Regions from separate parts of the Homo sapiens genome. Here all the other regions are linked to region 1. A link means that fine-mapping ties the variant in region 1 to the plasma level of a protein whose gene starts in the linked region. Region 1 holds a variant in brackets. A gene starts in each other region. All regions are shown on their reverse strands.

What was found. PIP is the chance, under the fine-mapping model, that this variant and not a neighbour inherited with it causes the effect. Protein levels are from antibody-based Olink assays in UK Biobank. Linkage for the fine-mapping came from a reference panel and not from the study's own genotypes, which makes the PIPs less certain.
Region 2: it holds the start of IL27, and the variant in region 1 is fine-mapped to the plasma level of the IL27 protein (UK Biobank, PIP above 0.99).
Region 3: it holds the start of AMBP, and the variant in region 1 is fine-mapped to the plasma level of the AMBP protein (UK Biobank, PIP above 0.99).
Region 4: CRNN starts here. The variant in region 1 is fine-mapped to the plasma level of the CRNN protein (UK Biobank, PIP above 0.99).
Region 5: it holds the start of OMD, and the variant in region 1 is fine-mapped to the plasma level of the OMD protein (UK Biobank, PIP above 0.99).

Annotation. Positions count from the first base shown.
Region 1 is chr17:28,408,867-28,415,394 of GRCh38, reverse strand. It overlaps LOC124903964 (a long non-coding RNA gene), which reads right to left and starts at 4,693. Exons shown (of 2, transcript XR_007065688.1): 1 at 4,084-4,693; 2 at 1,814-3,970. RefSeq lists an enhancer at 6,188-6,528. The variant T/C (reference allele first, on the strand shown) is at 3,286.
Region 2 is chr16:28,503,225-28,507,224 of GRCh38, reverse strand. IL27 (interleukin 27) reads left to right here and starts at 391. Exons shown (of 5, transcript NM_145659.3): 1 at 391-444; 2 at 3,175-3,347; 3 at 3,432-3,530. The coding sequence starts at 414.
Region 3 is chr9:114,074,827-114,081,354 of GRCh38, reverse strand. It overlaps AMBP (alpha-1-microglobulin/bikunin precursor), which reads left to right and starts at 3,055. Exons shown (of 10, transcript NM_001633.4): 1 at 3,055-3,262; 2 at 4,615-4,757; 3 at 6,319-6,395. The coding sequence starts at 3,146. It overlaps LOC107987120 (a long non-coding RNA gene), which reads left to right and starts at 286. Exons shown (of 3, transcript XR_001746905.1): 1 at 286-520; 2 at 615-657; 3 at 753-1,415.
Region 4 is chr1:152,411,837-152,418,364 of GRCh38, reverse strand. CRNN (cornulin) reads left to right here and starts at 4,102. Exons shown (of 3, transcript NM_016190.3): 1 at 4,102-4,151; 2 at 6,119-6,269. The coding sequence starts at 6,132.
Region 5 is chr9:92,422,926-92,426,925 of GRCh38, reverse strand. It overlaps OMD (osteomodulin), which reads left to right and starts at 2,455. Exons shown (of 3, transcript NM_005014.3): 1 at 2,455-2,724. The region is part of intron 5 of CENPP (centromere protein P); the gene reads right to left.

The sequences.
Region 1 (6,528 bases):
GCTCACACCTGTAATCCTGGCACTTTGGGAGGCCAAGGCGGGTGGATCACTTGAGGTCAGGAGTTCGAGACCAGCCTGGCCAACATGGTGAAACCCTGCCTTTACTAAAAATACAAAAATTAGCTGGGTGTGGTGGTGTGCGCCCATAGTCCCAGCTACTTGGGAGGCTGAGGCAGGAAAATCGCTTGAATCTGGGAGGCAGACGTTGCAGTGAGCTGAGATCACACCACTGCACTCCAGCCTGGGCGAAAGAGAGAGACTCCATCTCAAAACAAAAACAAAAACAAAACCAAAACAAAAACAAAAAACACCCAACAAACTGAATTCCTTAGAGGCATCACCTGGCCCCTGCCGACTTCTTGACTTCTTCAGCCTCACACTGTCTCCGCATGGCTATAAAGTATAGCAGTACCAGATTGTAGTGGGCTGGCCACTAAGGTGTTCCTTATCGCTAATTAAATCGGCCTAAAATGGGAGAAAACAGAATGCTTTTCAGATGCTTGGAATAGTAGCTTGGTGTTGTGTCACAGTGATTCCATCGCTTTATGTTCAGAAAGCCTTGGTCCACGCCCTTTAAGAAACCTGGGATCCTCTTCCCAGGCAGCAGCACAGCACAGGAAAGGGGCTGCAAGCTCGAAAACCTATAGGACCAGGCATCCTCTATGAGTGGAGGTGGGTAGTGGGGGAGTGGTGAAGTGGAGAACATATCCCACAGCTAAAGGGAGGGGACAGTCCCTTCCCAACTTCAGCAAGGTATTGCCTGATGTGAATGTTGCCATCATTTCTGAATTTTCAAGGGAATGCAAAAACCTGGATTTTTCATATGAATCTTCCAATTGTTAGATGTTGGCAACTAATTCAAAATTTAAAATACACGATGTGAGCCGATTATTTTTTTGAAAACAAGTGTGAATCAAACAAAACACATCTGTGGGCCATATCCAACCCCTGGGTCACATGTCTGTGAACTATTGAGAGTACAAAGTGTGGAGGCTTTGGAGTCAGACAGACATGGGCTGAATATCAGCTCTGTTACCCTTTAGCTGTGTGTCTTTGGGCAAGCCACATAACCTAATTCCTCATCTATAAAGCAGGGATCACAATACTTACCTCACTGAATTATAATGAGGATAAGAGATCATATATGTAAAGTGGCTGGCACACAGCAGTTCTCTAACTAAAAACTAACTATTACTGATCAGCACTATTGACAGACCTACAAAAAGAATGTATGTACATGGTCAGCATAGGAAAGTATGGTACAGGAACACCACCAAGGAAGTGCCACAACACTTCAGTCCCTAGAGGGCAGTTCTCAGCGGTGGCTTTCCTTGTGCCTGCTCTCCCTACTGCAAATCATCCTCCGTCCCTTGGCTCTGATTTGCGGCTCACCTAGCACCTTCCCGATCCCTGCTTCCATCTTCTATTTCCCTGGCACTGGGAATAGGCAGCCCTAGATAAGTGATGTGGCCATTACAGCCTACGAATAGAAACCCCGTGTTAGAAAAGAGCCTTCTGATTTGCACCCCCGTCTTGCTTGAGTTTAGTTCTCTGGTGCACTAAAAAAAAGTCAGGTGCTCCAGGGCTTCACAGCTGGGCTTCTGAGCCTGGGACTGGAGGGAGGGCCTGACCAGAAGATATCCTTCCTGAGACCAAATGGAATCCCTAGACATTACCCTCTATGTCACCCCCAAACTGTGTCAGCCAGGAGGCGCTCCTGCAGGGTCTCCCAGAGATCAAGAGACCTGGGCCATTTTTCTTATTTGAGAATCCAGAGAAACTAAAAATAAAGACTTGCCAAGACAGGCTTTCATAGCATATTTTAAATATTTATGTTTAATAAATTAACACGTTGTAACACACAATATAATGCTACTTAGCTGTATTAGTCACAGCATAATTACAGAATTAATATATACATATATATTTATACATACACACATATATTTTCTTGCCCCATGGGTCCCCATGAGTAAATATATTCATAGAGAACTATAGAAATTGGGACACCAGTTAAAACTGTGTGACTTTTTTTTTTTGAGACAGAGTCTCTCTCTGTTGCCCAGATTGGAGTGCAGTGGCATGATCTCGGCTCACTGCAATGTCTGCCTCCTGGGTTCAAGCAATTCTCCTGCCTCAGCCTCCCAAATAGCTGGGTCTACAGGCACGTGCCACCAAGCCTGGTTAATTTTTGTATTTTTAGTACAGACAATGTTTCACCATATTGGCCAGGCTGGTCTCAAACTCCTGGCCTCAAGTGATCTGCCTGCCTCCGCCTCCCAAATTGCTGGAATTACAGGTGTGAACCACCACCTCCGGCCAAAACTGTGTAAAGTATGCTCTTCTTTCTTTGAAAGCATTGGTGGGGAGTTAATACAGGCAGGACTTAAGGGGTTATAATCCTTGACATAAGGGAAGAAGGCAGAAATGAAATAATATAATTCACCCAAAAGATAAGAGAGGAGAAGTAAAGAAACAAAACAGGTAGGAAAAGAAGAAAAGATTTGGCAAGGCTGGGTGTTGTGGCTCATGCCTATAATCCTAGCACTTTGAGAGGCTGAGGTGGGATGATTCCTTGAGGCCAGGAGGTCAAGACCACCCTGGGAAACATAGTGAGACACTATCTCAAAAAAAAGATTTTTAAATTAAAGGAAAGATTTAGCAAGATGGTAGACTTAACCACAACTACATCAGTAATTACATTAAATGTAACTGGACTAAACACTCCAACTAAAAGACCAATTTAGGGAGTGAGTCTCTGGGACTGAATGTCTAAAATTGAAACGCTTTGTGAACATGAGGCCTTGGCTCATTTTCCTTCAGGGTGTCCTATGATGACTTCAGTACCCCCAACAAAATAGGTGTCCTTGCTGTCTCTCAGAACTTGCCTTTCCCACTGTACAGAAAGCCCTTTATCATGTCTTCTCTCTGTTGTCCTGGAGACTCCTTTTTACCATCTCATGCTTCAAAATTCAGCTCCTCTGTGAATCCTTTGACTTTCTCTTGATGACACACACACACCTTCTCTCTGAAATTATTCATCCTACGGCATGCTTTTGTTATTGTTATTTGAGATTTGTTGTGCTGCTTCCCACTAGCCTGAGGACTCATAGAAGGAAGGAATTATGTAAATTCTTGTCTGTAACCTCAGCACCTAGCAGTGGGCCTGGCAGGCGGTAGATGCTAAATGAATAGATGGATAGATGCAAAGGCTCTAGCAAAAGGAAAGTGTTTAAAATGAAACCAAGGGCAGGAGGCCAAAGACAGAAAGTGTTTTGTGAAATC[T/C]CCCCCATGCGGTAATGACATCTTTATGCACTTAATGCACCTCTAGCCCTGTACTTCTCTGAATTCTGGGTAGCATCCCTCTGTAAGGCCCAACTTTTCCTCTCACTTGGGACAGCCTCACTTCTTTCTGGTGAAATCCCTCCTACCTTCAAGCCCAGTTCAACAGCAATCATCATCTCTGGCACCTGGACACAGCCACATAAAGTTCACAGCCATACATATTTTCTCATTTGACCCAAACATCCACCCCATAGGTAGATATTATTACTTCATTTTTCACAGACAAGGAAATAGAGGCCCAGAAATTATTTCATTGATGAGAAAATTGAAGCCAGAAAGGGACTTGGTCAAAGTCTCACAGCGATGGGGGCATAGTTGCAGCTTCTACTCAGTGCTGGGAACACCCTTAGTTGTGACAAGGATGCTGCTTTGACTTTTAGGGTTGCTATGTGAGAAGCAACATCTCAAAAAGGAAAATAGCTTTTCTCTCATGCTGTCTCCTTCCTTCCTCTCAGTGTCTAAAATCATGAAGAGCTCTTTGGAAGCTGTAAGTGGCCTCTTGCAAAAAGGAGGCATAGGTTTTGGGTGGAGGCTGTGATAAGACTGCTGTTTGGATGAAGAATCCCTGTTGCAATCTTCTCTGTCACAGTGGTTGTATAGACAGCCTCTCGTAGGCATTATCCAACTGGAAGCAAAGAGAAACCCTTATGACTTCCAGGCACTTCCCCAAAGCCTCTCAAAATTTACTGAGTACATATCCTGGGGTTGGACAACACAGTTTTTAGTGCCAGTACTTACCATTCCCAAGCCCATGGCAGACATCAAGAATGAATCGCAGGACTCCTTCCCACAAAGCTGGAAAAATAGCCCATCTCAATGTAGCAATCCAGACAGATTCAATCAATTGACTGGAGTTGATGCATGTCATCAAAGTTATTTAACATTTTATCTTATTGCATGTCAAGCCCAGGGATAGGGAATACAGAGGTGAAAAAAATTTTCTCTGCCCTCAAATCTGGAGGCAGGACATAGGTAGGGGTTAAGAGGAGACAAACCTGGGAACACATATTTATAACCAGGTTAAGTTTAAAACCAGGGTTAAATGTATGAACCCAGTATTGTGGAAGTACATATTAGCCAATGACTAATTCCGCCTAGAAGTGAGACACAGAGGTGGGTTTTGAAGGATGAAAAGGAGCTGAATAGGCCAAGCAAAGTAGGAAGGGTATTACTGGCAAAGAGACTAACATATACTAAGGCTTAGAATAACAGAAAGCACTAGAACAGGTAGGTGTAAGGAAAAGAAAACCTGTACCCAGAGTGAGAAAAACCATTTCCCTTCATCCCTCTATGCTGTAGTTACATCATCTGTAAAAATAATAATACCTGGCCGGGCGCGGTAGCTCACACCTGTAATCCCAGCACTTTGGGAGGCCGAGGTGGGCGGATCACTTGAGGTCAGCAGTTTGACACCAGCGTGACCAACATGGTGAAACCCTGTCTCTACTAAAAATACAAAATTAGCCAGGTGTCCCGGCACATGCCTGTAATCCCAGCTACTTGGGAAGCCAAGGCAGGAGAATCGCTTGAACCTGGGAGGCAGAGATTGCAGTGAGCCGAGATCACGCCATTGCACTCCAGACTGGGCAACAAGAGTGAAACTCCATCTCAAAGAAAAAAAAATTGTAATACCTATCTCATAAGGCTGTAGTCAGGATTCAGTAAGATAATGTATGTAATGCCCTCAGTATGGTGCTGCCTGCTTCAATAAAAGTCAGCTCCTAGTGATGTCTCCAGAACATCAAGGAGCATGAAGCTGATATTTGGCAATTGAGCCAGAATACATTTGAAGGAGAGGAGTATCATCAGATTTTTAAAATGTTTATGTTTTCCATGATTAAAACATATGTTTATATCTGTTTATATCAGAAGGGTTGAAAACATTTTAAATAGAAGAAAAGAGAATCTTACCTAACCCTACTACCACGCAGAGAGGACTTCTGTTAATATATTGGTGCCATGGTTTCCAGTCTTTACTCAGTGCAATTCTTTTCTATGCCTATGACCATACCACATAAACAAGCTCTCTGTTTTTTCTACATACAAATTATTATGTAAGCAGTTTTCCATATTATTATAATCTCTTTGAACATATCATTTTAATGACTCATATTCATGGAGTGGATAGACTATAATTTACTCAGCCATTTCGCTACTGTTGGACACATAGGTTGTTTATCTTTTTTTTTTTTTTTTTACTCTTGTCAATATAATGTTATGGGAGAATATCTTAGCACATAAGGCTTTTTTCTGTACTTGAGACTATTTCCTTTAGATAGAGACCTACATGTAGAATTAGAGGCTTCAAGGGTCTTGATTAAAGGCTACCAAATTTTTTCCTGAAAGGGTGTATTTACACTCCTTCAGCAGTATTTGTTTCACTGTAGCCTTACCAGCTTTGAGCATTCTCATTTTAAACAAAATCATTGCTAATGTGTTGGCTGCAAAGAACAAGATCAAAGGCACAGTGTTTTTCTCACTATTCAGAAGCTGGAGAAGAGCTCATTTGTGTGTCTCACATGCATGTTCTGTGTTACAACCTCTCAGTGCTTGGTTTTTATCTGTTTACTGAGGGAGGGATCTTCAGGTTATTATCACATATAGTTAAAATAGTAACCCTTTGTCATATTTTATTTTATTTTATTTTATTTTTTTGAGATGGAGTTTCGCTCTTGTTGCCCAAGCTGGAGTGCAATGGCATGATCTCGGCTCACCGTAACCTCCACCTCCCGGGTTCAAGCAATTCTCCTGCCTTAGCCTCCCGAGTAGCTGGGATTACAGGCATGTACCACCACGCCCGGCTAATTTTGTATTTTTAGTAGAGATGGGGTTTCTCCATGTTGAGGCTGGTCTTGAACTCCTGACCTCAGGTGATCCACCCGCCTCGGCCTCCCAAAGTACTGGGATTACAGGCATGAGTCACTGCGCCCGGCCATATTTTAAAAGAAAGATTTTTCTTTCTTTTAATGACAAACAAATGACTTTGTTTGTCATTTGCCTTTGAATTAAGGCTTTATGTTCTGATGGAAATAAGTCTACAGATCTTTTCCTTTGCAATAGCTTCTCCTTTCCTGTAGAAATTTGACAGGCAGGACTTTTTAGCTCTCTCTGGGTAAGTCACCTTTCCCTCTGGACCTCAGTTTCCCTGTCTTTTAAATGGTTGGATGGGTGGAGATGTGATTT
Region 2 (4,000 bases), not on the chromosome of region 1:
GCAATCCCCTTACCTGGCTATCCATCTTTGGAAGGACAGTAGACCCTAGGATGATGGTGGCAGAGCCGAGAATCAGGAGGGGGTTTGGGACTCTGGGATCAACCAGTGAATAGGGCTGGATGGCTCACCCAAGCATGGGACATTGAGGACAGGGCTGGACGTGGGAGCTTAGCAGTGAGTCTGGAGCTTGGATGTCCCGAAACCCCAGCTTCCCGTCACCCCCCATCATACCTCCCACCCCCTCCGGGAAGGGAAATTACATTTCCCCATTTTAGCAAGGGGTGGCGAGAGGGAAGAATGAGTGAACACAAAGCTGAAAGTACAAGCAGGACGGAAAGTGAAACCGGGCACAGCCCCCAGTATAAGACCCCCCCTACCCAGGAGATGGCTGACCAAAGAGGCTGGGCCCCGCCATGGGCCAGACGGCAGGCGACCTTGGCTGGCGTGAGTTTGAAGCCAGGGGTGGGGGGCTTGGTTGAGTTTGGGCAGAGAATGGACGAGCTTGGCTGGTGCAGATGGGGGGTCGAGAGCTGAGAGCAGCAACTTGGCCAAGACTGAGGATTCGGCTGGCTGCTGCATGGGAAGGGAGGCTGGCATGACTGGGTGGGGGCCTGGGGCAGTGGGGTGGTGGTCTGACCCAGGGCTGGGCAGAGGATGAGAAGGAGGCCTTGGCTAGTGGGAATGGGGAGGGTTGGACCAGCAATTTGACAAGGACCAGGTCTAGGCAGATAAATGAAGAGTTTGGAGTGAATAAGCAGAAGCCAAACAGCTTGGCTAAGACTGAGAATGGGGCCGGCTGGAGGAAGAGCAGAACGAGGTGCTGGCACAAGTGGAGCACTGGGACCAAGATGTCAGCAGCCTCACTGGGTCAAAGGTCTTTAGTTTGATGTTGGAAAGAGGTCCAATCTGCGGCTGGTGGCTGCAGAACTCAGGGGCTAGAACCAGAGCAGTAGGCAGTGGAGAAGGTAACATGCCACGTAGGGCAGGTAGGGACCAAAGGCTGGAGGATGGAGACAGAGCCTTCAAAGGCCAGAGCCAATGACCCAGGATCAGCTGCAGAGGGTAAGGAGGGGGTCTGGGGTCTCCAGAGGTCAGGTTGGAGATGGCACAGCTCACTTACGGTTGGGCTTGATCCACCAGGGCCTGGGGGCACCCACCCTGTCCCCAACATTGAGCTAGGAAGAACCCCACTCTGCCTTAAGTCTCCAGGATGTCAGAGGGTCCGAGTGGCCCCAAAACCAGGGAGTCTGAATGCCAGAGATCTTACGTTAGGCATCGCCCACCACATCTGCAAGCCCACGAGGGAGGTAGATGTCCCTAGAAGCTCCCCTTCACCTTTATCAGGGGACATTTCGAAGAGCAGAGCCCAGGGGTTAGAGATTGAGAGAGGACAGGGAAGAGGCAGGGAGAGAAGGGAGAGCAGGATGGACTTCGGGCCAGTTTTGGTTTGTGTTTCGAGGAGAATTGTGTAACTCTTGTGCTTGCTAGATTTCCTCTCCCTGAGGGGGAAATTGATGAATGCTGCCCTCTTCCTAGAGCGCCCATCCGCTGCCCCTCTTTCCAGGAAAACACAGGTCAGGAAGCACACTCGGAATTCAGCCATTCTGGGCTGGGCGCAGTGGCTGATGTCTGTAATCCCAGCACTTTGGGAGGCCAAGGCAGGCGGATCACCTGAGGTCAGGAGTTGGAGACCAGCCTGGCCAACACGGCAAAACCCCTCTCTACTAAATATAATAAAAATTAGCCAGGCGTGGTGGCTACTCAGGAGGCTGAGGCAGGAGAATTGCTTTAACCTGGGAGGTGAAGGTTGCAGTGAGTCGAGATCGCGCCACTGCACTGCAGCCTGGGTGACAGAGTGAGAATCTGTCTTAAAAAAAAAAAAGCTCCCATACTGTGGATTCGCCCCAGGCAGGTTACCCTGCTAGGATCCACCTGCCGTGGTGGAAACTGGACAAACCTGTCCTTTTGACTCCCTGGAATAGAGCCTCTGGCATTGCCAGCCCATCCCTGGGGACCTCATGGCCAGTTCAAGCCATCAGAGCCGCTTGGCTGAGCCCAAAGAATCCTTGCCAGAACATGGTGTGCCCACTCCTGGGGCAGATGGCTGCCTCCCTCTGCATTCTCTGGGGAAAACCCATGGGCTCTGCATTTGGAAAAACCTGGAATCCAGTCCTGGCTTCCCACCTTCTGGCTATTTGACCTTGGGCAAGTCAACCTCACTGAGCCTCACCTGCAAATTGGGGAGAACAATAGCACTGAGGCTGCCACACGTGGTTGTGCAGGTTGCTCACTGAAAAAGGCATTTGGCCAAGGGAGTTTATGGGGGTCAAAATCCAGTCTCTGTCCCGGCACAGTGGCTCATGCCTGTGATCCCAGCAATTTGGGAGGCTGAGGCGGGAAGATCTCTTGAGGCCAGGAGTTCAAGACCAGCCTGGGCAACATAGTGAGACCCTGTCTCTACAAAAAAATAGAAACAGTTAGGCACAGTGGTGTGTCCCTGTGATCCCAGCTACTTGGGAGGCTGAGGCGAGAGGATCACTTGAGCCTAGGAGTTCAAGGCTACAGTGAGCTGTGATCACACCACTACACTCCAGGCTGGGTGATAGAACAGAACTCTGTTTCAAAAAAAAAAAAAAAGGATCAGGCTTCTGGTCTTTTTGCAAAAGTGGGCACACCATGCGGAGATGCCATATGGGGGCCGTGCTGGCTGCATCGTGGGGTTTTGTTTTGTTTTGTTTTGTTTTGTTTTTTTGAGACAGAGTCTGGCTCTGTCGCCCAGGCTGGAGCACAGTGGTGTTAGCTCACTGCAGCCTCTGCCTCCCAGGTTCAAGCGATTCTCCTGCCTCAACCTCCTGAGTAGCTGGGATTACAGGCATGCACCACCACGCCCAACTAATTTTTGTATTTTTAGTAGAGACAGGGTTTCGCCATGTTGGCCAGGCTGGTCTTGAACTCCTGGCCTCAGGTGATCCGCCCGCCTCGGTCTCCTAAATTGTTGGGATTACAGGTGTGAGTCACCGCACCCAGCCTCCATTGTGGTTTTGAGGAGGCAGAGGAATGATGCTGGTCAAAGTGCCTGCACCGTGCTCACAGCTAGCACAGGCTCAGAAAAGGCATGTTCCCTTCCTTCTCAAGCTCTCTCCCTGTCTTGCCACCCTCTTCCCATCTCTCCAGGGCTCAGCCTGTTGCTGCTTCCCTTGCTCCTGGTTCAAGCTGGTGTCTGGGGATTCCCAAGGCCCCCAGGGAGGCCCCAGCTGAGCCTGCAGGAGCTGCGGAGGGAGTTCACAGTCAGCCTGCATCTCGCCAGGAAGCTGCTCTCCGAGGTTCGGGGCCAGGCCCACCGCTTTGTAAGTCCCCCTAATGCAGCTGGCGCTGGAGATGGGCAGACCCCCAATCCCTTCTGGCCCCCACTAACAGACCTTGCCCCCCAGGCGGAATCTCACCTGCCAGGAGTGAACCTGTACCTCCTGCCCCTGGGAGAGCAGCTCCCTGATGTTTCCCTGACCTTCCAGGCCTGGCGCCGCCTCTCTGTGAGTGAGGGCTGGTGGAGTGGGGCGGGAAGCTTGTGATAGGCTGGGGCCAGGGTGCAAGATGAGGCTGGAGATTGAGCTGGAGATGCATTGGGGATAGAACCTGGATAAGGCTGAATATGTCATTGGACATAGAGATGAAAGACAGGCATGGTGACTTACACCTATAAACCCAGCACTTTGGGAGGCCCAGGTGGAAGGACTGCTTGAGGCCAGGAGTTCAAGACCAGTCTGGGCAACATAGTGAAACTTTGTCTCTACAAAAAAAAATTTAAGAGTTAGCCAGGCATGGTGGTGTACACCTTTGGTCCCAGCTACTCAGGAGGCTGACATGGGAGGATTGCTTGAGCTCAGGAGTTGGAGGCTGCAGTGAGTTATGATCCTGGACTCCAGGATGGAGAACAGAGGGAAACCCTGTCTCAGAAAAATAAATAAACTGCCAGGCGTGGTGGCTCATGCCTGTAATCCCA
Region 3 (6,528 bases), not on the chromosome of region 1:
CATTGCACTGGGTACCCCTGAGGCTCTGAGGCCTCCTGTGAGGGGCAAGACCCTCCCCCACAACCAAATGGTTTCAGAACCTAGCAATTCCCATGGACTCTTAGACCCCTGGGCCCCCTAGGAGGGCAGGGACCCCAGAGCCTCCATCCTCCCACCCCAGCAGCCAGAAGGGGAGGAGGGGGCAGCAGCTGTCTGACCACTGTTGGTCTTGCAACTTGTGTCCCCAGGTTAATTTTTAAAAAGCAGTCAAAAGTCCAAGTGGCCCTTGGCAGCATTTACTCTCTCTGTTTGCTCTGGTTAATAATCTCAGGAGCACAAACATTCCTGGAGGCAGGAGAAGAAATCAACATCCTGGACTTATCCTCTGGGCCTCTCCCCACCCCCAGGAGAGGCTGTGCAACTGAATGAACAGCCCTGTCCAAGAGAGGCTAGGACTGGGGCTTCTCCACCCCTGCGCGTCTCAGGCTTCCCATCTGGACCATGGGGTTGATAACTGTAGTCACGCAGGCCCAACATGAAGGTCAGCGAGCCATCTTGGTGCACTGTAAGCGGGCTTAGTAGGATGATTTTATTCCTATTAATGATTCATTGTTATTTATTTATTCTTATACCAGGCCTGCCTCCTCCAATGGCAGACACCCCTGAGCCACCACACAGGTAAGGCAGTGGACAGTTTACAGTTCACTTCCTCACACATTGTCTCTCTTGGCCTCTTGACAGACAGAACAAGAACTGTTTTCTTCCGTTCACAGATACGGAAAGTGGTCTTTAGCGAGGGAAAGCCACCTCCAATATCATGCAGAACAAGGAGAAGTTGGGGGCTACCACCTCCTCATTACCATCATTAACTAAAACATCAAAGATTGAGAAACTTTGTGAACACAAGGAACACGAAGATAACTGTCCCAGAAAGCTAAACCAAGACAGTAACTGTGCTTAAACTTACATCATGGCTTTGAGCTTCCTAGCAGCCAAAGCAAGAAGGGAATATAATCACTGGCCAAGGTTAGGGTGACGGAGCAAAGGAAACACATTTATGAATAGAAGCACACTTGTTCTGGATACCAGTGAAAGAGGGATGTACTGACTGAATCTTACAGAAGGGACATGATACACCATTTGTTTCTGCACTGACTACATGGGGGAATCCTTTGATTCTCACATAAGCAGGGGTCTTAATCTTGGGACTGCCTGCCCGAAGGGGTCATTCCCAGCTCTAACAGAGAGGTGGCTGAGAGTATGGAATGTTCCATGCCAAGAGCAGGGAGGAAGTAAGGACAGTAGATTTAACCACTGGAGAAGGGAAATTCATAGAGAGGCCTTTGGTATTGCTGGCAAGAGTGTGAGCTCACAGACAACGGACCTGGGTTTTAAAAAATTCTCATTTAAAATCTTAAATTTAGGCTGAGCGCAGTGGCTTACGCCTGTAATCCCAGCACTTTGGGAGGCTGAGGTGAGAGGATCACCTGAGGTCAGGAGTTAGAGACCAGTCTGGCCAATATGGTGAAACGCTGTCTCTACTAAAAATACAAAAATTAGCCAGGCATGGTGGTGGGCACCTGTAATCTCAGCTACTCGGGAGGCTGAGGCACAAGAATCACTTCAGCCCAGAATGTGGAGGTTGCAGTGAGCCGAGATCGCACCACTGCACTCCAGCCTGGGCGACAAGAGTGAAACTCCGTCTCAAAATAATAAATAAATAAATAAAACCTTAAGTTTAATAACTACTGTATTAGTTTCCTAGGGCTGCTAGGAAATGTGTCTTCTCTCAGCACTGGAGGTCAGACACCTGAGACCAAATTTTCAGCAGAGCCATGTTCCCTTTGAAGATTCTGGGGAAAAGTCCTTCCTTGCCTTTTGCTAGCTTTTGGTGGCTGCCATCAATCCTTGGTGATTTTTGACGTGTCACTGCATCCCTCCCATCTCTGCCTTCGGCGTCACGCCACATCTTCCCCGTGCTTCTCTCTGTGTCCCTGTGTCTGAGTCTCCCTCACCATTCTCTTATAAAGATACCGGTCATTGGATTTAAAACCCCTGTCATCCAGTTCAACCTCATCTAACTAATCACATCTGCAAATCAGGTTCATTCTGCGGTTCGGGGTGCACATGGATTCTGGAGGGGGCACTGTTCAACCCACCACAAACACTCAGCTCTTACTCTATGCTGGGTACTGTCCTAGCGCATTGCAGGTGCTCACTCAACAATGCTAGGAGCTAGGAACTATTATTATCCCCATTTACAGATGAGGAAACCAAGGCACTGAAAGGTAAAGTGACTTGCCCAAGGTCACACAGCAGTGAGTGCCACTGTAGGCTGCCTGGCTCCCACGTCCATGGTCTCTACCACGCCTTTCCCAGCTACTCCACTCCCGGCTGAGGGATTCTGGGCAAGTCACTTCACTTCTTGGAGACTCAACTCCTCTGCCTGTAAAGGGGACAAATAGCACCTACTTCGTAAGCTTGTTGTGGGGATTTACTGGACACCTGTGGCACGTGTAAAGTGCCTGGTACACAGCCAGCACATAGCAGGTGCTCAGTGAACGGAAGCTCGTAACAGTCATCATTGTTAATGTCTCTATTATTTGCAAAGGCTAGGGCAAGCCTGGGGGCTGGAGAAGGAACTCTGGAGACAGGATACCTGGGTTCTGGTCTTGGCTCTGCCCATAGACTTCCCTGAGGTCTCTGGCAAGTCACTTCCTCTCCTTGGGCCTCAGTTTTTTCCTGTGAGAAATGGGCCCAATCAGGCTTGACCTGCTGGCTCACAGAGCTGTGAGGTCCAGATGGCATGACTCAGCAGAAAGGCCAGGTCGCTCCCCATCCTCGCATGCCCTCTGTGGGGGACTTTTGGGGGGCGGAGCCCAATCCTGGTGCTCCAGGGCCCTATTGTGCTTGGCCAATGCCTCTTCTGAAGCAGCCATCCCGGCCTCTTGGTACTGCTGACCCCAGCCAGGCTACAGGGATCGATTGGAGCTGTCCTTGGGGCTGTAATTGGCCCCAGCTGAGCAGGGCAAACACTGAGGTCAACTACAAGCCACAGGCCCCTTCCCCAGCCTCAGTTCACAGCTGCCCTGTTGCAGGGAGGCGGTGGCCCTTCTGTTGCTAGACCGAGCCTGTGGGATATACCAAGGCAGAGGAGCCCATAGCCATGAGGAGCCTCGGGGCCCTGCTCTTGCTGCTGAGCGCCTGCCTGGCGGTGAGCGCTGGCCCTGTGCCAACGCCGCCCGACAACATCCAAGTGCAGGAAAACTTCAATATCTCTCGGGTAAGGCTGCCGCTCTCTGTGGTAGGGTGGATGTGGTGATGGGGAGTCCAGGCAGATGGGCCCTGCTGGGCAAGTGCGGCCTGTCTCGGGGTCTCAGGCTTCCACTCAGATCATCTGGGATTATGGGATCCTTTGAAGGTACAGCTCTATCCCCTGCCATTCCGTGGGTCTCTTGGCTGACATTCTATGAGTCAAACATCCTCACCTTCTGCACTGTCCTCGTGGGCTCCAAGGGGAACCCTTGTGTTAATGGGAACCTGCTCCAGAGAAGGCTTTGTCCTGCCTGCCACTGCCCTGCAGCCCCCGTGCAGACACCTAGCTTTGCCCAGACCTCCCAGCCCTTCCTTCTCTAATGACTCCCCTCTCTCTGTGGCATCTTTCCCTTAGCTCTTCCTGTGTCCCCTGCCCACATCCTGGCCTGACTGTGGACAGACACCTGGGGTGGCACAGCGTGGGCATGTGGCCAGCAGCTTTTGGGTTGGGCATGTGGGGCTTATGGGAAGAGGTGAAGCAGGACAGAGATTAGGGTTGGGAGACATTCAGAGGCTTGGGCACAAGGAGAGACCTGGACTGGGGCAGGACACTCTCCTGTGAGTGTGGAGTGCCAGAGCTGCCTTCCAGCCCCCACTCTGCCCTAAATCCCGGGGTGGCTTTGAGAATACCCTTGCCCACCTGGGGCTGTCTCCATGTCTGTATGAAGGGTCTCAGAACCTTCTAGCTGTGGTGTCATGTGGGTTTTGTTTACTTTTAGGGACAAGGAAAGGTCGTGGCAGAGGGGCAATGAGGAGCAGGTCCCTGTGGCAGTCTGGGACGCAAAGGGTGTGGGGCACATTGGCCTGTTCCGTAGGAGCCTGAGGGCTCCTTCAGCTGTCCCGTGCACTTTCAGGAGGAAGAGGAAGCAGGCCTATCCTGAATGACCCCATCATGTTCATTATACTTTTGAAATAATTCCTAACATGGGGCTGTGGGCTGCCTTGCAAGGTGGGGAGCACCCCATCATTGGAGGAGTAAAAGACAGGACTCCAGCTCTTGGGGAGCAGTGGTTGATGGAGCTATGGACAGATCCCACATCTTGAGAGAGTTAGCCCTTCTGCAGGGCAGGTTGGGACCCCAGCCGCACACCTGCTTCCTGGGTTCGCTGTGATGCCTGAAACGCCACTCTTAGGGATCTGGCCTCCCTTGAAGGTGTGTGGCCTCTGATTAGTTGTAAGACATTATCCCTTAAAAGGATAAGTCATTTTGAGGAGAAGGAGGAGGAAGAGGAGGAGGTGGAGGGTGGGGAGCAGATGTCAGCCAGGTCTGCTTTGAGGTCTGAGACTGATGCAGACCCCCAGAGCTCACCTGCCTCCTAGATCTATGGGAAGTGGTACAACCTGGCCATCGGTTCCACCTGCCCCTGGCTGAAGAAGATCATGGACAGGATGACAGTGAGCACGCTGGTGCTGGGAGAGGGCGCTACAGAGGCGGAGATCAGCATGACCAGCACTCGTTGGCGGTGAGCACTAGGGTGGGGCTGGAAAGCTGAGAGAGACCCAGAGACCCACAACCTTCCCAGCCCCGTCCATCCTGGGAAGTTGCAGATCTCTGCTTCCAGTCAGGACCTTCCCGCTGAACCCCAGATCCCTCTACGCTCCTCCACCAGGACGGCCCTTTTCAGGTGTCCTATCTATTCCTCGAGGGCAGTGTCCCAGCACTGTGCCTGTTCTGCAAACTGCTCCTCCCCCTTGGGCATTCCTTAGCCCAGTGTGGGTACTTCAGCCCCCCAGGGACCCAACCTGGGAACTGGGCTCCTCTCTCCCCTGTCACCCATCATCAAGTCCTGCCCATTCTCCTCCTAAATCCCCCCCAACCTGTTCACTTCTCCCCTCTCCACTGCCACCATCCTGGTCCAAGCCACCTCCCTTTCTTTCCTGGTTGTCTGCCACAACCTCTCTACTCTTTCCTCACCTCTGACCTCCACCCTTCCACCCCATCCCCTCTTCACCCAGTAACCAGAAAGACCTTTTGAAAACTCACATCTGCTCGAGACCCTTCCATGACTCCCCAATGCCCTGGGAGTAAGATTCAAACTCTTGATGTGGCTTTCCAGGACCCTCCCAGCACCCAGAACTCCTGCCACACACTCTGCTATGTACTCTGAGTCCTACTCACGTGAACCTGCTTTCAGTTCTGGAACTCTCACGCCTCCAGGTCCTTGCACCTGATGTCCCTTTTACTGGGAGCACCTCTCCTCATTTCCCTGGGCTAATTAGTTCCTGTGGATTCTTCAGAACTCAGGTTTCATGTCACCTCCTCCAGGAAGCCCTCCCAGACACCCAGGTTCAGGTTACATGCCCTTCTTTGTGCCCGAAGAGGACCTCACACTTACCCCCATGTGGTACTTCTCACACTGATTGCATCTGCCTCTCACCTGCCTGCCTGACCCACGCAATTGCAAGCTCCAGGAACCCCAGGGAATGGGGTCTGTCTTGCTCTCTCATGTATCCCTGCCATGTAGCACAGGGCTTGCCACATAGGTGCTGCCCAATAAATATCCATTGGATAAATAGTGCTCATTGTAACAATAATAGCTAATTCGTATATAGTGCTTCCTCCAAGTTCTTTACATATGTGTCAGTTGACCCTCACACTAACCATGTGAGGTAGAAACTATCATGATCCCCATTTTATAAATGAGAAAACTGGGGCAAGAGAGACACAGAACAATACATGGATGACTGTAGGAATTCATCACTCCAGCTCCTCCTGCCTCAGTATAATGTGTAGATTTGATTAAGGAAGGCGGCATTAGTGCTGGCTTTGCCAGGAGGATGGCATGGATTTGTCTCTTCTTCTTTGTCCCTCCATCATATGGAAAATGGGGGTCTCTCAGGGCTAGTGTGAGGATTAAACAAGACATTTGGAAATGTTCATTTCCGAATTAAAAAGCAAACAAAAACACACAAACAAAAAAACCCCAAAACCAAGGCATTTGGAAAGAGCCCTGCAGGAGGGTTGAGTGTCAGGACCATGATCTCTACCAGGAGTGACCTTCCTTTTGATTTGTTCATTTCTAGGAAAGGTGTCTGTGAGGAGACGTCTGGAGCTTATGAGAAAACAGATACTGATGGGAAGTTTCTCTATCACAAATCCAGTAAGTGGAGTGGAAAGAGACACATGCATTCTCTCCTTTGCTTGAAAATACCTTGATGTCCTCAGCTCCCTCTGCCTCTGTAACCTTTCCTCCCATTTAGCTGAGATGTCATCTAGCCTTCCCCCAAACAACT
Region 4 (6,528 bases), not on the chromosome of region 1:
ACGGAGTTTAGCCTGCTGAGCAGTCTGCCTCGGCCTCTGTGTGTGTATGTGTGTGTGTGTGTGTGTGTGTGTGTGTGCGCGCGCGCGTGCGCGCGAGTGTGTGTATGCGCGCGCGAGTGTGTGTATGTGTGTGTGTGGTAAGTACATAGCTGTTTGGGGCAGTCAGGAGATAACGATCATGATGTAGGACTGGAGGGAACCCAAAGAAAAGCACCACCTGCATGAAAGCCCAGCTGTTCCCCCTGGCTGAACTTATAGAGGCTTTTGCCAAACATTCTGGATTTTGCCACTGAACAAAGGGGAAGGGGGAAGAAGGAGAACTGTCAGTATGAAGAGAGATTATTTCCTTGGGCTTTGTCCCCGGCATCTCACAGGGCCTCTGGATTTGAGAACTTGCCCTGTTTGTTACTCTCTGTGGTCCCATAGCTAGTTCACGTAGTGTTTAAGCTGGAACATACCATGTTGAGCTGGGTTTAAGTCAAAGGGAATTTTCCAGACTTCAGATAAGAAACTTCAGCCAAGATGCAAAGCAGAGAGGTTAAGATGCTGGGCTCTGAAGTTGAACAGGTTTGGGTTCAAATCCTGCCTTTACCATTTATTTTCTGTCTTTGGAAAATTAAGTTAGTTAATGATAATTTCTTCATCTATGAAATTGGGATAATATCTTTGCTACCATAGGGTTGTTGTGAGGGTTAAATAAAATGATATGTGTAAGTTTTTAGCACAGTGTCTGTACATAGTAGGCACTTAGCAAATAAAATAAAGTAAAATAAAACTAGCAAACCAAAACAAGCACAGGTAGGGGGTGTTGCTGACATAGACCCTGATCTCTCATATTCCTGAGCAGTGATTCTTTACCCCAGACCTTGTGATATTTGACAATATTTTTTAGTTAGCATTCTAAAAATTTCTACTTTTCATTTTAAAATAACTATTTTTGGTGTGTAAAGCCTGTTTGCCCAATTGGGCTAATTTTCTGGAAAGCAATCTTAATTTATAGCCCACTAAGTGTGGCAAATACTGCTTGTATCTTGTAGAAATAAATCAAGTAGAGGTCAGCAATACATTGTTGAGTAAGTGTATAAGAAGGAGTCAAAGTGCAAAACTGGGTTTTCATTGCTGAGTTGCTGATCCAGCACCTGGTCTCACTGCCCTCCAGCATACCCGTAAAATGTAACTGCTAAGTAGACTCACTAATGTCAACTTAAATAATAACCACAGTGAATCTCTCTTAAAAAAAAAGTTACCTATTTGAGAATAGGGCATTGCAATGGGAATACATGTGCCATAGTAAACTACGTGCATATTCAGGAGGTAAAGGAAAACAAAAGTTCTTACAGGAAAAACAATGAAAATTACATAATTTTATTGAAATGTGTATTCTTGGCTACAAAGATCAATAACAATGGTGATGCTAATATGAAGTTGGACAGGCAGCTGCTGGACTGATGTCCTCACAGAAGTGTTTGTTGTGTAAGGCTATTATGGCCTTTGTGTAAGGTTGTGGTTTTTGCAGTCTTTTGTGATAGTTGTGTTATCAGGTGTACAAGCATGAGAACTCTCTCTTCGCAGCCTTCCTTAGCTCTATATTTGTCAAGGATTTTTTTGAAGACAAGTGACTCCATTTTGATTCTGACAACTTGCACACTAACTTATAACATCTCCTCACCAACTTTATAAACTAACAAACTTACACAGTCAATTACAGGCTCAGTCCCAATCTCTGCCAACTCATCTCCCCCAGCCCCACCTGCACACTTCAACCCACCTCCACTGGCCCAGCACACACATACAGTTCTTTAACCTCTACTTCTATGGTGCCCCAGCTCCTCACAGCTCAGTCCTGCCCCAGGCACACATAAAGACCTATTAGGCTTTGGAGGCAGGCAGACCTAAGTTCAAATTCAGGTCTAACTTCCTAGCTATGTGACCTTAGGTAGTTTACTTAAGTTTACTTACTTACTCTCTGTGCCTTGGTTTCTTCATCTATAAATTGGGTTAATAATACCTACCAAATATTCATCTTCTAGATACAGCCTCTGGCTTGTTACTTCCCTAACTTACCCTCAGTTCCCAAACCTTTCTGGAAGTTCTAAGCCCCATCAGAAAAAGCTTCAAACACCACCACAGAAGAAGGTCTAATCGGCTCTCCCTCTTGTTCTCCAACTTCACCCTCTCATACTGGCCTTCTTCTAACTCTGATCAGGCAGAAGCAACCTCAGCCCCCTCTTGCTCCCAAAGGTTGAAGCCCCTACTCTGCTTTTCCCTGGCTGGTATGCCTACCCCACCTTCACCCCAGGACTGGAGCCAACCTGTCCCCATGTAGACAGATCTCTCCAAACACAAAGCCTGCATCCTGCCCTCCTGCAGTCTGGAACTCCCCAGTGCTCTGTGCCCTGAGGGGAAGTGCTGGAGGCTGTGCTGTTGCTACAGGGCTGCCCTCAATACACCAGTCTCTTCAACCAAGGCCCTTACCATGCCTTCCTATCCTGTTGTTCCCTTTCCTGTCTGTTGCATGCTGATCTATAAGTGAGGATGGTAAAGATGGCTTTCCCTTCCAGAGTCACTCAGGAAGCTACACAGTATATATTATCTGCAAAGTGCCACTCAAGAGCACTCTTTGGGACTTGGCTTCTGAGCTCAGAAAACTTCCTCCTCAGGAATGGTTCTTCATGCATTGAGGATAAGTGTGATGTTCATAAGGTGCCAAAACTCAATGAGAGAAGAATAAATGGCAGCATGGTGCAACAGAGAGAACACAGGCCTGGAGTCTGAGGGGCTCTAGTCCAGCACCGTCTCCGCTTCACAGAGTGGCTACTTCTCTGAGGATTTCTCAGTGTTCTCATTTATGAATTGGGCTTAGCCATACCACCTCAGAGGATTGCTAGGGAGATCAAATAAGATGAGATGGTAATGAAAATGGAATAAAATCAAATGAAATGAAATGGCAATACCATTATCATTAACCTCTTGGGGACTTACCCCTGGGATGGCCAGGCTATAGACTTCATGAGAGTTGAAACTGCTGCCATCGTATTCAACACTGTATTCCTAGGGCCTTAGCCCTCTGCCTGAAATGGAGCAAGCTTTCCATAAATATTTGCTGATTAGCCACCAGTTGAGTTTCCTGTCCTTGCAATGAGGAGTTACCACATGATCATGGTAAGCCTTTTTTCTCATCAGCTACAAAATGCTACCTACCCATAGCATGGGGTGGGGAAGGTATTAACTTTTTTTGTTTTAATTAAAAATGAGACCAACTTTAAAGAGATGAAACTGGCTTTCTTGTGTCTCATACACTAGGTGTGAAAGGCACTTACAAAACAAGAATTCAAAAAATGTTCTAAGTAATAACAGTTCTAAGTAACATCACCACAAAAACATGTGTGCCCTCTCAGAGTGGCTACTTTGTAAAAGTTAACCTCAATAGATATATTCTTGAACATTTATATTAAAAAAGGAAACAGTGGCCAGGCACGGTGGCTCACACCTATAATCCCAGCACTTTGGGAGGCAGAGGCAGGTGAATCATGAGGTCAGGAGTTCAAGATCAGCCTGTTCAACATGGTGAAACCCTGTCTCTACTAAAAATACAAAAATTAACTGGGCATGGTGGCAGGCACCTGTAATCCCAGCTACTCAGGAGTCTGAGGCAGGGAATTGCTTGAACCCAGGAGGCGGAGGTTGCAGTGAGCCAAGATCGCACCACTGCACTCCAGCCTGGGCGACAGAGCAGGACTCCATCTCAAAAAAAAAAAAAAAAAAAAAAGGAAAGAGTCCCATAACTTTGTAGGCTCATAGAGACAAAGAATGTTCACCAGGACCCCAGCCTGTACCAAGCACTGCTGAGCCCATCACAATGGAAAGAAGCTTCCCTGTCAAGAGGACTCAGCTACAGAAGGTACCAAATGTGGTAGGAGGGGCCTGTTAATTAGACCAAGGCAGTCACACATCAGCAGGTAAAACAGAGACAAGAGGAGGTGTGGCTGGGCTGGGCTGGATCTTGGATGAATCAAGCCTTCCCATAGGGCAGGATATCCTGTCTAAAACAAGAGCCTTGGTTAAAACCCCTATAAAAGGTTCTCATCACACTGACCTGGTACTCCTCACACCACTTAACAGCCACTTGTTTCATCCCACCTGGGCATTAGGTAAGTCCCCTCATAAGAAACCTCTTTCTCATTCTCAGTGTCTTGGTGATCTGAGCTCATAAAACTGGGGCAGTCAGGTATGGACTATGCATCCTTCAGAGCTAGCTGTGAGCACTGGGCAAACCAACGCTACCGTTGGGAAACATGCTCTCCTGAAGCAATCAGGCTTTCTCCTCCTCCCTGAGGCTGGCCTGGGAGCAGCTCCTCTCACTGGGAAACTGTGTGGGCAGCGGCTATGGGGCCACCCATGTGCCTTCCTGGATCAGCAAAGGTTTCTTTTTTCTAAGGCTCTGGAAGCTTCTTTGCAGTGCTGAGAGTCTATGGGATCAGAATCAGTTTACTTATGCCAACCTAGACAATAAGATCAAACTGTGTCATGGATGAAGGGGTTTACATGATTCCCCTCTCCTACACCAGGGTGATATTTAGGCAAAATATGTGTAGATTTTTCTAAGGAATCTAAAATGTAACTAAAAGGTCATCTTATTATTTTATTATCTAAAGGTCAGTGGTTAAAGTCTGCTACATGGTTTTAAAAAAAAAGAAAGATATTTTTCATCTATGTTGAGGAAAACATCCCCAGTTTTTTACCTTGATGAAAAGTTTGCCTGAAATTGTTGGTTACCAGGTCCTAGAAAGGGTTTCTCCTGAACAGCCCACCTTTTGCTATGACTTACTGAGTCCTCATGGCCACACTAATCTGCTTTTTCTAGAACTCAAGTCTCCTTCCTTCCTTTTTTCTCTTTCTTCTCCTACCTATATCTGCCTCGTCCCATCCTCTCTCTGGCTTTCCAGCTGCTACAGGCTCCATCTCCCCTTGCATTTGAGACTTGTCATCTTTGATACCATCTCCTCCTTTGGGTCTCTCCAAGGCTTCTGCTTAATGAATCTTCAAGTCTCTTTTCCTTTTGCTCATGCAACCAAACCCAGGCCTCACCTCAACCTACCTCTAGATTTCTGGCTAATGAAAAAGAAAAGCTTTCCCTTTGATTAGGAACCAACTCATAGGTCACCAGAAATCTGGGCCTGATGGAGCCACGTGCCTGTTGGGCAAGCTGACTTCTCTGATAAGTCTCAGGGCTGTGGACAGAGGCGACATGCAGAGAAACTTGGACCCTCAGAACTGGAAGGCCTCCCACCCAAAGAAGGTTCCCCCCTCCTGAGCATTCCCAGCAGGTGGTAGCCCAGTTTCTTCCCACTTTCCCAAAAAAAACAAGAAGGGAGGGCTGTGTCCCTGGAATTTCTGCTTGGCTCCCATCCAAGACAGGGGTTGACTCACAGATGTATTTACTTCCTTTTGGTGTTCCCGATGGGACCCTAACACCCTTGTGATAAATAAATAAATCCTGTCCACAGGGTACATTCTAGAAAGCCCATTGCATTTGGGTTAAGGAAAAATGGATCCTAGGATTTCTTGGCTCCTTAAAAATTGTGTGGCCTAACTTCTCTGAGCCTGTTTCCTCACCTATAAAAAAAAGTGGAAATAATAAGGATTAGAAGAGATGATGTACAGGAAAGTGATTATATAGGTGTACAAAAATTATATGTGTGTATATGTATATAATAGCATAATAATTATATTTAATAAGGAGCACTTAATATAAGCCAGGCATCTGCCAAGTGCTTTTTATGAATTATGTCTTTAAATCTTCACAATAATCCCACAGAGTACTAATATCACCTTCAATTACAATGAGTAGTAAACTGAGGCATGGAGAGGCAAAGCAACTTGTCCCAGCTCACACCATACTTAAGTGGTGGGGCCAGCATTTAATCCTGACTCAGGAACCTGCCTCCATCCTGTGTGCTCCTCCTTCCCATACATAAGATGCATTATGTAGGAAAGGACAAAGGAAAACTAAAAACAGAGCTGAACGTGCAAGGAAAGACCTAGCAGCAGACGTGCTATAAAGGAAATAGCTGAGGTTGATTATGGAGCCTCCAAGGGAACTTTTCATCTTTTCCAGGTTGACTTCAAAGATGCCTCAGTTACTGCAAAACATTAATGGGATCATCGAGGCCTTCAGGCGCTATGCAAGGACGGAGGGCAACTGCACAGCGCTCACCCGAGGGGAGCTGAAAAGACTCTTGGAGCAAGAGTTTGCCGATGTGATTGTGGTACGGTGTGCTGAGCCGGGTGGAGAGGGGACATAGCAGGAGAGTGAAACCTGGTTTGCCTGCAGAGGCCTTGCCTGGGGAATTTGAGGAGGCAGCAGCTAAACCCAGGCCTGCCGGGACAGATGGCAGCTGTGCAGGCAGAAAAAAAGGTGAAAGAACCAGAGATGGTCATGGGAGTTGGCAAGTCCTGGCTCTTTAGATTAAAACCTTGGTTTTAATTAATTCTAACTTAAAGACAAGGTAAAAGGGCTCTAAAAGG
Region 5 (4,000 bases), not on the chromosome of region 1:
GTTGCTGCTTAAAGTGCTCCTGCTTGTAGGATCTCTCAGCCAACAGAGCAAGGAGGTCTATGTGTGTACTATGTGTATATAACATAATTACATTTCCCTTTTAACCAGCTGTATCTATATTAAGCTAAATATGAGTTCATACTGATGTCTTCAACTCTAATCTATTACCACATGAATCACTGTCACCACCTCACCTCGCTTATTTATTTGTAACTTCCACTCCAACGGTGAGACACCTGGCTCTCACCATCTGCCATACAGTAACTTAATTGTTCCATTCCAGTCCCCACATACAGCGGTGCCTGAACTGTTGACCCGTACCCCCATGCCTCATTCATTTTTATCCCTTTACCTTGCATTATTCTCTTCCATCGCACTCTACATTGTTTATATTCTGCATTTTATGCTTATTTATGTTTATTTTCTGTTTTCCTTCTCTATAACAGAGACTTTCACTGCTGAGTCCCAAGCATCTAAAATCTGCACAAAGTAGGTGTCCAGTGAATAAAGTGGAACAAATGAGCAGAAAATTGTAATGCTTATTATGTTAATTAAGCAGGTCTCAGGAGGGCCTTTCCTAGCCAGTCCTGTGTCACTCAGCTTTGAGATACTGAATCTATTTCAATCAAAGTATAATCATAGCATATAATTTACACTTTTCAACAATTCAACTCCTTTTCTCCCCAATTGCTACAATTATAACCACTTAACTAAAACAGTGAACTATTACAAACTCACATCCCCTATTTTTTCCTTTAAGGCCTGACTCTAACTACCACCACCTCCCCCCATCCCCATCCCTTGCCACCTTAAACCTCCTAGATAGACACTGCCAATCAGTTTAAATTTTCTAGACATTTTTATTCTGTCTGCTCTAGTTATCTACTGATTTTTCTTTCACACTTGTTAAAAACATGAATAACATAATCAATATCATAAATCCAAATCACAGAGTTAATGAGAAGTTATATAAACATTAGGCTGTTGATTTTCAGTTAATCTTCCAAAAGGACTGTGAAGGCCTATAAAACAATTTTTTGAAAAAGTACACAGATTTGCTCTCTCTTCCTTAGTGAAAGCCTGAGTTTTAAGAACAAAGACACTAACAGAAAACATATGGAAAAGATCAGTAACAAGATGGAATCTTGGCTAAAGTGTGGTCTGCCACGTTTTTCATACCAATGTCTCAAATAATAGACTAGATTTTTACAACTGCCAAAGCATCACTTGAAACACTGTATACTTTTCTTAATGCAAAGTTTAACAAAATAAATCTTGTGAGTTCTTTGTAAAAAGCTAATGGAAAACACTTTTTTGAGGAAACAAAATGAACTCCAGGATTCACTTTATCTTATTAGTTTGTAAAAGCTTAAAAGAATTCCCCCCCAAAATGAACTCCGAATCTACTGCCAAAAGACACAAGTCAACTCTCTGTTTAGAATATGAGAACAGTGTAAAAATTAAACATTAAAAACAGTTAACTGTTACTATTCAGGAGAGATAGCTCTATGAAATGAAGAAATTTTCTAAATCTACAAAATAAAGGCAATAGCTATTGAGTAACATAAGCTTTTCATCCCATTTTATTCAATACTACAGAATTATTTTGTGCAATAGTAAAAACAGGCAAATTGAAGATACACCTTTGGAGTGCAACCAACTGACTAATTTTATCTGAAAGGATATTAGAAGTCATTCTAGTGGGTACATCTGCCAAAAAGAGGAGAAATGAGATAGCTGATAAAAATGATGATAAAAATGAAGATGTAAGCCTTTGTATAGAAAAGTCGTATAGTTAATCTGTGTAAGCAATGACAATCAAGTGCATTTTAAAAATAAACAATGCGAAATGTTATGTTTCTAATCCTGATTTCTTGTTTTAACAAATAGAAGTACTGATATGAACCTAGGTGTTGAATAACCAAGGGACTCAAGAAATTTTGAGTTCCAGGCCAGGCGTGGTGGCTCATGCCTGTAATCCCAGCAATTTGGGAGGTGGAGGCGGGAGGATCACCTGAGGTCAGGAGTTCAAGACCAGCCTGGCCAACATGGTGAAACCCCATCTCTACTAAAAATACAAGAAATTAGCCAGGCATGGTGGCTCATGCCTGTAATCCCAGCTACTTGGGAGGCTGAGACAGGAGAATTGCTTGAACCCGGGAGGTGGAGGTTGTGGTGAGCCGAGGTTGCACCACTATACTCTGGCCTGGGCAGCAAAGCAAGACTCCATCTCAAAAAATTAAAAAAGAAATTTTGAGTTCCACCTTAAGTTGCTGAGACTCTGGAGTTCCCTGTCACAGTGGGCCTTAATTTGAAGAATTCTTTGGCATGAAAATGAAAATAAAAACAGTAATCAGTACATGCTGTTTCATTTAGTTTTGTTTGCCTTTCACATTAGAGGAAATTCTTGCCACACCTCAAACCAAAATTAAGGGGAAAAGAAAGAAGTAAGCCACATAAATCTGACCAAGAACACAAGCATCTTAATTTGAATCCACAAAGTTTCATGTAATGAAAAGAAATACATAATTTTAATTCAACCCGAGTGTTTTCCAAGAAGATTGTATTTGCTTAAATTGCTACAGTAATTCAAGAGACAGCCCTGTCTGGACACAGAGTTACTGTGGATTTTTAAGAGACTCAGTTAAAGAATTTAGGAATTTCTGATTCATTTAAAGGATTTACAAATTCATCAACCCCTGAAAACTAAAGCAAATTGAACAGGTATGATAATAAAATAATTTTCAATTTTTTAAGAATGTATTCCTACTGTTAAAATTTAAAAGTATATTGGATTTTTTAATATTAAAATAGACTGCATCTATTACAAAAGCACAATTTTTGGAAGCAAAATCTGGTAAAAAAGTTATGTTAAACTTTTGATTAGGCAAAATGTTCAAATAAAGTAGTATAATGAGTTTAACTTTCTCATTTAAGATTTACCCAATAAAAAATCTTTGTTTAGATTTTTTTTTACTTTGAATGAAAGGAAAGATTCTCAGGTTAAAGGAATCAATCTCTTTCTCTTCCTTAGGTCTCTTTTTTTCTATGAATTATAAGTAACAAAGAACCAGCTAATGCCTTTGAGGCATACAGCTGAGCAATGCTAGTGATTCCGGTTGGGGGGTTGATGGGCATTTGTACAAATTTCACTCAAGATTTTCTCCAAATTTCTCTACTGACTAAATCCCTGATATAGAATGTTTTTCTTTTCATTTACTTCTTTCTCAAAGGGAAAATACAGATGCTCTATCTAGTCTATTGAAGGATCTAGTTACTTTGGGTTTTAGTTAATTACGATTTAAATGTATTATGGCTAAAAATAATTGAGGTAATTGTATTTTTAATAGCAAAAAAATTTTATAAAATTAAAATTTAGAACTTTTTTGGAAAAATCTAAATTATATGCTAATATTTGCTTTCTTATATGCTAGTTTCTATGTCATACAAATAAAAACAATTATGTCTTTAACATAATAAAATGTTGAGGATTTTACTTTAAACTTTTCCTGAACAAGTAAATTATACCTCATTAGTAATTTCAATTGAAACTTTTCTTGATGAACACGAGTGCTTTTCTCCAAGTAAGAGAAATATTATGACACAGATGGTTTTATTGCTATAATATGAAAAATTCACATTGAAAACTGGTAATATATATATATTACTTTGCTCCAAACATTCTTTTTCACATTTGTTCTTTTCCTGCTACACGATGTACTAGGAAAGTGAGGAATACAGTATATTGTGATGAAGAAATATTCAATAGAAAAAGGAACAGTCAAGCTCTCATGAATATGTTCATTTGAAGAAATTATCATAGTGAAATAAATGCCTAGGAATAATCAACATTAGTAGAGAGAAGCATTTGCTAGCAAGCCTTAACCTATAACTTATTAACTTATTCATTCAACACACCTTTGAGCACTTATAACACTGCATTGTATTAGATTCTGTTAAAAGATATTAGGAAATGAGATGATCAACAATGAATTATACA